2 separate regions of the Homo sapiens genome follow, and region 1 is linked to region 2. A link means that fine-mapping ties the variant in region 2 to the expression of a gene that starts in the linked region. Tissue or cell type: hypothalamus. Region 2 holds a variant in brackets; the other region holds the start of a gene. All regions are shown on one strand. Distances are from middle to middle. Region 1 holds the start of TAB2-AS1 (TAB2 antisense RNA 1). Region 2 has its middle 41 kb from the start of TAB2-AS1.

What was found. PIP is the estimated chance that this variant, and not a neighbour inherited with it, causes the effect. A credible set is the group of variants that fine-mapping cannot tell apart.
Region 1: TAB2-AS1 starts here. The variant in region 2 is the best candidate, but not a certain one, in a credible set for the expression of TAB2-AS1 in hypothalamus (GTEx, PIP 0.54).

Annotation. Positions count from the first base shown.
Region 1 is chr6:149,254,891-149,259,890 of GRCh38, reverse strand. TAB2-AS1 (TAB2 antisense RNA 1) reads left to right here and starts at 2,340. Exons shown (of 3, transcript NR_149096.1): 1 at 2,340-2,507. It also overlaps a transcript of TAB2 not described here.
Region 2 is chr6:149,214,185-149,219,696 of GRCh38, reverse strand. It overlaps a transcript of TAB2 not described here. Among named protein-coding and RNA genes, the nearest start is that of TAB2-AS1, 41 kb to the left of the region's middle. RefSeq lists an enhancer at 1,831-1,920. The variant G/C (reference allele first, on the strand shown) is at 2,316.

The sequences.
Region 1 (5,000 bases), 40 kb before region 2:
CCCTGTCATGGGCTACAGTGGAGGAACCAAGGGGAGGGGCCAGGCTATGTCCCGGCTCTGACACTGATGAGTGGAAGGGGTGGCTTTGGGCCACTTGTATCATGTCTCTTATTCCTCATCTGTAAAATGTGGCAGTTTGACTGATGGACCTCTCAGCACCATGGAGAAGTTTTAAAGGTGGCAAATAACACATTTTACACCTTCAGGCTCTCCCCACTCTTTTATGAATAAGCATCTATAAGACAGGATGTCTAATTCTTCTGGAGATTCCTGAATATCCTGCCTTTGTCCAGGTTGGGCAATGCTAAATGCCAGTTCTGACCAATGGTGCAGGTATTAATTTCACAGTGAGGATCTTGTTTCAATGTATTTAAATTAGGTGATGTGGAGATGGAACATTCTGACAGAAGAGTTGGGACAAAGTGACAGATATAAGCCCCCTAACATCTATATGTTTCTCAGTGAGACTCAAACTGCTTCCCTAGGCTTTGCAGAGCCCTCTCCCAGATTGTGTGTATGTGTGTGTGTGTGTGTGTGTGTGTGTGTGTGTGTGTGTAGAGGGAGCGTGCTATAGGCAGCCTTTCTATGTCTGCACTGTGAACAGATGTGGTCAGCATTTCTAGGGCCATTTATGGCTTTCTAGTTATATATTTTTCTTGCTTTGTTTTGCCACTTCCCTGAAAAACATCCTCCATTAGTTTCCTATTGTTACTGTCGAAAATGACCACAAACTTAGTGTCTTAGAACAACACCAGTTTATTATCCCACAGTTCTGGAAGTCAGAAGTCTAAAGTGGCTCTCACTGAGCTAAAATCAAGGGGTTGACAGCATTGTGTTCCTTTCTGGAGGCCCTGGGAGAGAGTGTTTTCTTGCCCTTTCTAGCGTCTAGAGGTGACCCTCATTCTTTGGTTTGTGGCCCTTTCCTCCATTTTCAAAGCCAGCAGTGGGTTGTAGAACCTTATTCACATCCCATAACTCTGACACCAACCCTGCTGAACCTCTGTGCTAACACTGGTCCAGAATCATCCAGAATAATCTCCCTACTTTAAAGTCAGCTGATCAGTAGCTTGCTTCCACCTTCAACCTTAATTTCCCTTTGCCATGTCACATGATGTATTCACACGTTCTGGTGATTAGGATGTGAATGTCTTTTGGGAAGGGAGAGAAACTAATCTGCTGATATACTATATAGGCATATGGTAATTTCTTTATCAGACTGAAAAGAGATAGGTTAACAGTGATTAACATTTTCTCAATGCAAAACTTTTTACTTAACTCAGGGAAAAATTATCTTTTGTATAAAAATGGATGCTTCTGAGCAAATGCATGATCAGCAAAGAATAGTTGTATGTTCAGTTACTGGACAGGAGGAACAGTCTTCTTCCCTTAGGTATAGGACAGAATCATACAAAAGTAAAAGTGTATTTATGTGAGAAGTGTGTGTGTGTGTGTGTGTGTGTGTGTGTGTGTGTGTAGGCAGTCATGCACTGGAGGGGGCTCACTCTGGCATGTGAGAGCCATTGTGTGTCTATATTTTCCTAAGTTCATGTTCAGTGACATCACTGAATGACTTGAAATTAGCCATGGTGGGAGTATTTACACCATAGAAAGCGGCAAATGCTGTAAGTCAGGGTTTTATTTTCCCCTGGAGAGCCCATTGTTAAACACTAATGGGCTCACCACTAGAGTAGAGACTCACTGCCTTCGGTTCATGTGCACAACACCGCTGTGTGGCCTTACTGCTCCTGTGGGATCCCCAGACTCTCTAGCTGGAGAAGGGGCAAATCCCAGGCCGCATCCAGACCAGCGGGCCTAGCCACAAACACAGCTGCTGCAGTTCTCCCTCTGCTATCTCAACTTCCCTAGTTGCTATAGTAGCGTGGACTGGATGGGGAGCTACACTTTCTCTCATGTGGGCAAAAGCTTGCTTCTTCGTCACTCCCCACTGTTTGAACTTCTCTCTGTCTAGCATTTTTTTCCTGACCAGTCTGTGTACCCGTCGTTGATCTGTCCGCTTGGATGGAGCCAGTGCTCTTTCTTAGAGTTGCATTCACTTGCCCTCGCTTGTGCTTGTCTTGCTCCCCCAGGAGCTATGAGATCAGTGCTGCCCAGATTTTAGGGGAGTTATCAGGGGAGCTTGTTAAAATGCAGACTCCAAGACTCTGCCCCCAGAGATTCTGATTGGGAAGGTCTGAGATGAGCCCCAAGGATCTGCATTATTGACAAGCACTATTATTATTAGCATTACTGACATTATTATTGGCATAATTCTAATTATTGACATCACTGACAAGATTCTGAGGCCAGGGGTTCATGGGCCACCCTGACTTGCCCAGTCTGGAAGCTCCCTGAAAGCCTGGCAGGCCACCCTACTTCAGCTGCATTCGGTCCATACACTGAGGGTCTCAGTGGGGAAAAAGCAGAGTCATTTTAAAGAAACATGGATCTTAGTTTCTAGAAGGTTTTTCCCCATCTGGCAGACAAATTTATGCCTATTCCACACACAGGTGGGTGCAGAATACCATGTTCCCAGGTTCCCAGAGAAGAGGAAACTTTTCCCCAAGAACTTTATCAGGTAGAAATGTGAAAAATTCACACAGCTGCCAAGACAGTGGATCCTCCTGAGTGCATGTATTTTGAGTATTTGAAACCATCTGAATGATTTATTGAACTTTTTACTTTCCGTGGACGTGCTTACTGGGTGTTGTAAGATGTGAACCTCACAGCCAGAGACAATGTCTGTTGAAAGGAAGATTCAATCTTCACTAAGCGCAACCCAGCTTGTTTTTCAGCAGCTAACCAACCACTCTGACTGTGGCAATTTTCTTAGCAGGAAAAATTTTAGATGGTTGTGTGGTTTCTAGCTTTATTCTTTTTCATTTTACACGTGAAATGTTTGGGATCAGATTGGTTTTCTTTAGAACTATGGTCCAAATTAATTTAAACTGACTTAATTATAAAGAAAGAGATAAATTGCTACCTTTAGGAGCTTTTGACCTCAAGTCCTCTGATATTTGAGACAAAGTTTTTTATCCCCTGGGATGAAATCCTTCAGTAGCATGTAGGCGAGTTTTGAGCAAAGCAAAGAGTAATGAAAACTCTAATATAAAGGCTGTAATTTTCTAAAGAAGTCTGTTCCTTATTAAGATCAAGTACATGTCAGTCATCTTATATTTTGGGAACATCCACCAAATGCAGGAACTGTACTGGGTGCTTTTCCATGTGTGGAAAATTTTATCCAGCGTAATCAATTTTTCTAGTGCAATAAACATATTAAAAAGAAGGCAAATGAGATATTTCTGTATCTCATCAGCATGAATAATATATTCGAGTTTTCCCCTGACCACATAAGACTTGGGCTTGAATACTACCCTGCCTCCATGGGTCTCTTCTTCATATAAAGAAAGGGGAGAACATTTGTGTTAAGTACCACATAAAGGAGGTTGTGAGAATCTAATGCAATGATGTGTATGAAAGAGTTTTATCAAAGAGGAAGCAAAATTAATATAGTTTATAATTCTGAATTTATATAGTTTATAAATATTAAATTCTATATGCAAGTATACATTCCACCCATACAATTCTAATATATTTCCTTTACTCCAATGCCCTCTAGTAGTACAACAGAATTACTGTGTTATTGTTTTGAGATGAAGTTATTATATAATATTTTAAGATGAATTATTGTATTGTCATTTTGCAATGAAAACTGTAAAATGTTTCCTCTTCCTTTTCACTTCCTTTTTTTAAAATTAACTTTCCTTCTTTTTAATAGTAACCAGTTCTTTTCTGGAAGTGTCTCAGTATGTGGGTTTTCACATACTGGTTGATCAGAGGCTTGAAGGTACAATCAACTCTTCCCTGCTAGCAGGGTGGAAGGAGTTAGTTTAACTCATTCTTGAGCCCCCAGAGAACTGGGTCTCATGACATGCTCTCTCTTTTTCTCCTTTTTCCTGCCCTCTTGGAAGTATACTGAGAGGTTTTTGAGGAGGACTCAGTTGTATATATGGTCTGCAACGACTGCCTGGTTCTTCTTTCTCTTTCCAAATTTTACATCTGGCATGAAAAGAGAGGCAATTCTAAATGTAAATATGACTTCTTGATTACTTAAAAATACTCCTCTCTAGCTCATATACATAGCAATTTTGTGTAAATATATGTTAAACATCAAGGCCCATTGAAAGAAGAAAGAAATCACATAATTATAATAGCTAATCAATCTAGAATACAAACACTTCCAGATTTATTAGATTTATCAAAGACACTAGCATAATTTCTTTTGTTGCATATTTTTCCTATTTACAGAAGTAACATGTTAATTATAGAAGATATGATAAATCTGGAAAAATACAAAGAAGCAGCAAATTGCACATTCTGCCAAAATTCAGAGATAACTCTTATGAATATTTTTAGAATAGTTTTTTAGTCTTATTTTCTTTGTAGGTATACACACGCAGAAACACACATACACACTCCTTTTTCATATATTTGATTGTATTGTAATTATGTTTTATTTGTTTCCTTAATCAACAAACATTTATTTCTCACAGTTCTGGAGGCTGGGAGGTTCAAGATCAAGATGCAGGCAGATTCATCTCCTGGTGAGGGCCTCTTCCTGGCTTGCAGACTTCTTGCTATGTCCTCTCCTGATGGAGAGAATGAGCTCTGGTGTCTCTCCCTCTTCTAACGGGACCAGTCCCATCACAGGGTCCTGCCCTCATGACCTCATCTAAACGTAATTACCTTCCAAAGGCTCCACCTCCAAATACCATTACATTGGGGGTTAGGGCTTCAACATGGATTTTAAGGGATATCAACAATTAGTCCATAACGTTTTGCCCCAGGTCCCCCAAAATTCATGTCCTTCTTCCATGCAAAATACATTTATTCCATCCCAACAACCTCAAAAGTCTTGACTTATTCCAGCAACAACTTTAAGGTCTAAAGTCCAAAGTCTCATCTAAGTATCATCTAAATTAGATACGGTAGTTACATTTTAT
Region 2 (5,512 bases):
ACATCAATGCATAAGGTGCAGCGGGTGAATCAGAGCCACTGATTAAAAATAAAGGCAACATAAAGTACTGGGTAACTTTGAAAACAAAACAGCACAGACTTCTCTGACTTTAGTTGGTCATAAGAAATTTTCTCCAGCTCTTCATTTTTAAAAAAGAGAAATAATTTAAAGAGCAGGTTTGAATGAACAATAACTCAGTTGGTATCTCAATAAGGCCACTTTACTAGCGGGCAATCTGGGCAAACTAGTCTCTTAAGTTTGACCTTAGTTTCCTTATCTGTAAAATGGGGTAATAACACATACAGTTGTTAGTTATAAAGTGTGACACTGTTTACTTATATACTTGTCCCAGTACACACACACACACACACACACACACACACACACACAAATGTTAAAATATGAAACACTTGGTAAGCAAAAGTTAACCCTGGAAGCGGATTTGGCACAACTATGGGAAATGGTGGCCTTGCCTCATTGAGAACAGAGATTTTCTAACTGTGAAGCTTCTGGGCTCTGCAGTGGTTTGAATTTTGGGAAGTGTTCTGTATGTCCTTTAACTATCTGGTTGTCACTGAACGCTCCCAGCCCAATCATCCCCAGAGACTATTGTAATTAGTAACTGAGTAAGTGACAATGAAAGAGGGTTTATAAAGAAAATATATGCCATCCAAACAGAAAGTTCACAAGTTTCCTGGACACAGCTCTTTCTTTTCTAAATCTGTTTTTTGCTGGCAGGATGCAAGCAGTCTCTTTCCTTTACAGTCACAGATTTCAATGGCATTTTAAAAAGTACTAGGTCTCCTTTCTTTACTCACAGTGTGCATTTCCCAGGCATTTCTACAGAAGTTCAAACAGACTTCAGACACAAGATCACAGAAGATCCTTTCTCCAGAAACAATGACTGTTTCCTGCCTTACCTGCATTCTCAGTTGGTTTGCTTTGGAGGAATAAACTTAGTCTCAAATCCTTCTTCATCCAGGCAGTCATATTGAAACTGGATCAGATGGTGTTTAGATCTTTACAGCCTGTGGCCCTGAAGGAGTTCACCTCACTGAGCATTAGTCTTCTCATCTGTAAGAATATAAGAGTGTCTTTCAACCCCTACCCTGACCCTGTCCCACTGGAGGGCTTGCTTCTAAGAGGACAGCTCCTTTTGGAAGCATGAGCCAGAGACCCAACTTGAACCAGTGTCAGTCCAAGACTTGGATTCTCTTTTCAGGCTTAATGCCACTCTTCTTTTGCTTGTTCTTTCATCTTCTTTTAAATCTTAATTCCAAATGAGTCTCTTTTTTGTCCCTGATTAAGCCTTTTAATAAATCTTTTTTTCCTTGAATGAGTATTAATCCTTTTCCCTGAATAAACATAAAACATGTGCAGTGTTCTTTTGGCCTTCTGCAAGAATACATTGTTCTGTGTGGCCAAGAACCAACCTATCCGAGTACAAAATTTACTGCAAAGAATTTTTAGGTAGTGTCAAACAAGAGCCATTGAGGGCTAACTAACAATAAGCTTTCTACTCTTCTTTAAAGATTTGTCTAGTATATTTTTTAAGACTAACAAATCATCACTGAGTGCAGAAAGCCCAAAATTGCTCAAATAAGATGCATACCAGGTTAGTATGCAGTTCTGCAGCTCAGGGACCTAGGCTCCTCTTGTCTCGTAGTTCTGCTATGAATGGCCTCCATTCTCATGGTTGTTGTCATATTCTGAGACTGTTGCTCCAGCTTCAGCTTTTGCCTCCATACTTAACATTTCAGACTCCAGAAAGGAGGAAAAGGAAGTCCTATAAGAATTTTATTTTCCCCCAAGAAAAAATGCATAAAGTAGTTAAAATTACATCCCATTGGCCAGGACTCAGTCACATGGCTGTATCTAGTAGCAAGGGAGTCTGGGAAATGCAGTCTTTATTCCAGGCATCATGTGCAGGCTAAAAAGGGGAGAGGATTCTATTACTATACAGGAAGAGAAAACTGGGTATTGGGAGGCAACTAACAGCCTCTGTCACCAGTGGTTTTTATGCTGGTCTCACCATCTGGCCAGGAAGGAGAGATACAACAGGCTAAACCCAGAGTTGCCAAACTTTTTCTGTAAAGGGCCAGCTAGTTAATATTTTAGGCTTTGTGGCCATGCTGTCTCTGTTTCAATCACTCAACTCTGCTATTGTAGTGAAAACATGCATTGACAATATGTAAATGAATGTGTGTGGTAGGATTTGACACTTGGGCCTTAATTTGCTTACTCCTGAGCTAAACAGTAATACTAATACTAAAATTAAGACATATTCTTTACTTACTGTGAATGTGCGAGGCACT[G/C]TGCTGAGCTGAGCACCTCACAGACATTTTCTTAATTTCCTACAAAAACTCTGTGATGTAGGTAACATCATCATGATCATCACCAGTTTTATCTATGAGGAAACGGAGGCATGGAGAAATGAAATGATTTGCCGAAGGTCAATAGTTTGTAAGTGGCAGATGGGTTTTAAGTGGAGACATCAACTCTGGGACCCATTCCTACCTTTCTCTCTGAGAAAGTCTGGGCAAGGGGGCAACCAGAGGTTCATGACCAGGGATTTGCTCCAAGGCAGTGAATTTAGGAGGCACAAAAGACTTAAATAATGACTTTAAAAGTTTAGTACCTAGTTAGCAAAAATAGTTGGTTGAAGCTGTTAGACAGAGCGTTGGTAAGAAACCTCGCTGTGGGCCGCATCAAGAACTACTTTGTTGATTTAAGGGCTTAAGTGATCTTCTGAGAACCTTAATGTCTCCAAATCAAGGTAACTGGCTGTGTGTCGGTATTGGTGGGGCTTTTAGGGTGAGGGCCCCACTGCAGGTAGCTGTGACTAGGTCGGGGCTGCTGTGTACTAGCATGTGACTATGAAGAGAGCAGGAAGTGACATGTGTAGCTCCATAGGGCTGCTCAGGTCACGGTCTGAATTTCCATATGAGGTGGTCTAGTGGCCGGAGAAGGCAGAAGGAGACAGAATTCCAGGAACTGGGGAAAGCCTGGATGAATGAGAGAGGTGAGAGCCCCAGGGAGCTTTCTTTTCTTTTGTTTTTTAAGACAGGCTGGAATGCAGTGGCACGAACTCAGCTCACTGCAGCCTCAACCTCCCAAGCTCAAGCCATCCTCCCTTGTAGCAGGGACTACAGGCAAGTGCCACCACACCTGGCTGAGTGTTTTTCCTTTCTTTTTTTTTTTTTTTTTTTTTTTTTTTTGCAGAGATGGGGCTCTGCCTTGTTACCCAGGCTGGTCTCAAACTCCTGAGCTTAAGTGATTCACCTACCTCAGCCTCCCAAAGTGCTGGGAGAGCTTTATTTTCAAATAAAGGGCAAGACATTTGATTCGGAGGAGAGATAAAAGAGAAGGTGCCCCCAGATCTTGCTGCTAGAGTAATGCTTGAACCCAGCAGAAAACCCTCCTTCTCTGTAGGAAACTGGCAAGTCTATATTTTTAGCACCTAGCAACCTTGTATGACATACTAAGATTGCCCTCCAATGATGCTATCTCCAGGGAGGGCCGTTTAGCTAAGCAGAGCATGGGCCTCCTTGGCTGGAGCACTGACTTTGCCACCACAAGGCCTAAAGTTCCTTTCCAGCTCTTCATAATTTCTGGAAAGCCACCTGATTTCTCAAATCAGGGATAATTTATTATCAATAATCTGAACATTACATATGGTTTGCAGAGCAGCTGCATGTGTATTATTTCATTTGATTTTCATAACAACTCTGAAGAGAAGTGGTGAGCAAAATGAAATTAACACATATGGCTCTCAAATGCTAGGTGTGGCTGGTTTGATACTTTGCTGTGTACCATCTCATACAGTCCTTCAGCCATCCCGGGAGGTAGGCCATTATTATGTGCCTATTTTAAAGATGGAAAAGTAGACTCAGAGAACTTAAATAATCTGTCCAAGACCTGACGACTCACAGCTGGCATGTGATATTGCTTGACCTTGAACCCCATCTTCTGAAATCAGTTTCAGAGCCCCTCTCACTATTGTTCAGCCGTGGGTGCCCACAGAATGCACAAAAAGGAAGTAAACACTGGTGGATGTCAAGGACTTGGGCGGAAATCATCCTACCCAAATTCCAGAGCTACTGGTTCAAATAAAATTTAAAAACAACAACAGTCCCTGAAGAGAAGTAACCTGTGCAGGAAAACCGAGGGGCCTCTCAGTGGGTGCAGATCAGGCCTGGACATGTAGGGGCTCAGTACACCCTTCTTTAGTAATGGAGACCTGTGGCTGGGGACGGTGGCTCACACCTGTAATCCCAGCACTTTGGGAGGCTAAGGCGGGTGGATTGCTTGAGCTCAGGAGTTCGAGACCAGCCTGGGCAACATGGTGAAACCCCATCTCGGCCAAAAATACAAAAATTAGCCAGATGTGGTGGCATGTGCCTGTGGTCCCAGCTACCTGTGAGGCTAATGAGGAAGGAACGCTGGAGCCTGGGAAGTTGAGGCTGCAGTGAGCTGTGATCATGTAACTGCACTCCACCTGGGTGACAGAGCCAGACCCAGTCTCAAAAATAAATATATAAATAAATATATTTTTTAAGAAAAACAGTGAAGGCCTGTGTTCCTGATGGAACAGTGAACCTAACCAAGAAACAGTTGTTAATTTATTCATTCACCCATTCAACTGACATGTATTGAGAGTCACACTGTTCAGATGCAGGACACAAGAAGGCTGATGTCCAGTGACTACTTTGCAGTCAGGCCAGCTGAGGGTTTACAGATGGGCATCCCTTCTGATGGGTTGGAGTCTATGCCAGACCTGTTGTTAAATAATTTGGATACCACCACTAGATATAGTAATAAACAAGTTCCTGCCCTTGGGGCCTTATACTTTCATGAGGGGAGAGAGCTGATTTAAAGTCAGGCAGTGGTAAGAGCCATAATACCAATAGGACAGGGTGATGTGATGAAGGTGCATTAGGCATGGTAATCCTGAAAGGCTTTTCTGAAGAGGTGATATTTAAGCTGGCATCTAACATCAGGAGGGAGCCGGCCTCTGCAAGAAGGGCATCTCATGGAGAGGGAACAGCCACTGCGAGGGTCTGAGGTGGGAATAAGGCTGGTGTGTTTGAGACAGAAGGAAGTTCAGTGTGACTGGAGCACAGAGGGTGCGGGAAAGACAGGGGTACACAGGAGGAGTGGGGAGGGTGTGGCTGATTCACACAGGGCTCTGAAAGTGTTTGAAATTTCCTCTAAGTTTCAAGGAAACCATCGGAGGGTCTTAAACAAGGAGTGACATGATAGGATTTATGTTCCTAGATGATCACGTGGGTTGCAGTGTGGAGAATGGATTCTAAGGGGGCAAGACTGGATGCAGGGAGACTTGCTGGGAAGTTTTATAGTCATCTGGAGACTGTGACATGGACTGTGGAGACAGCCATGGTGATGGAGTGAAGTGGATTGCTTTGGGCTATATATTGGGTATGGAGTTGACAGCTGATTTGGACATATTGGAAAGGGAGAGGAATTGTGTTTGCCTCCGAGTTTTCGGGCC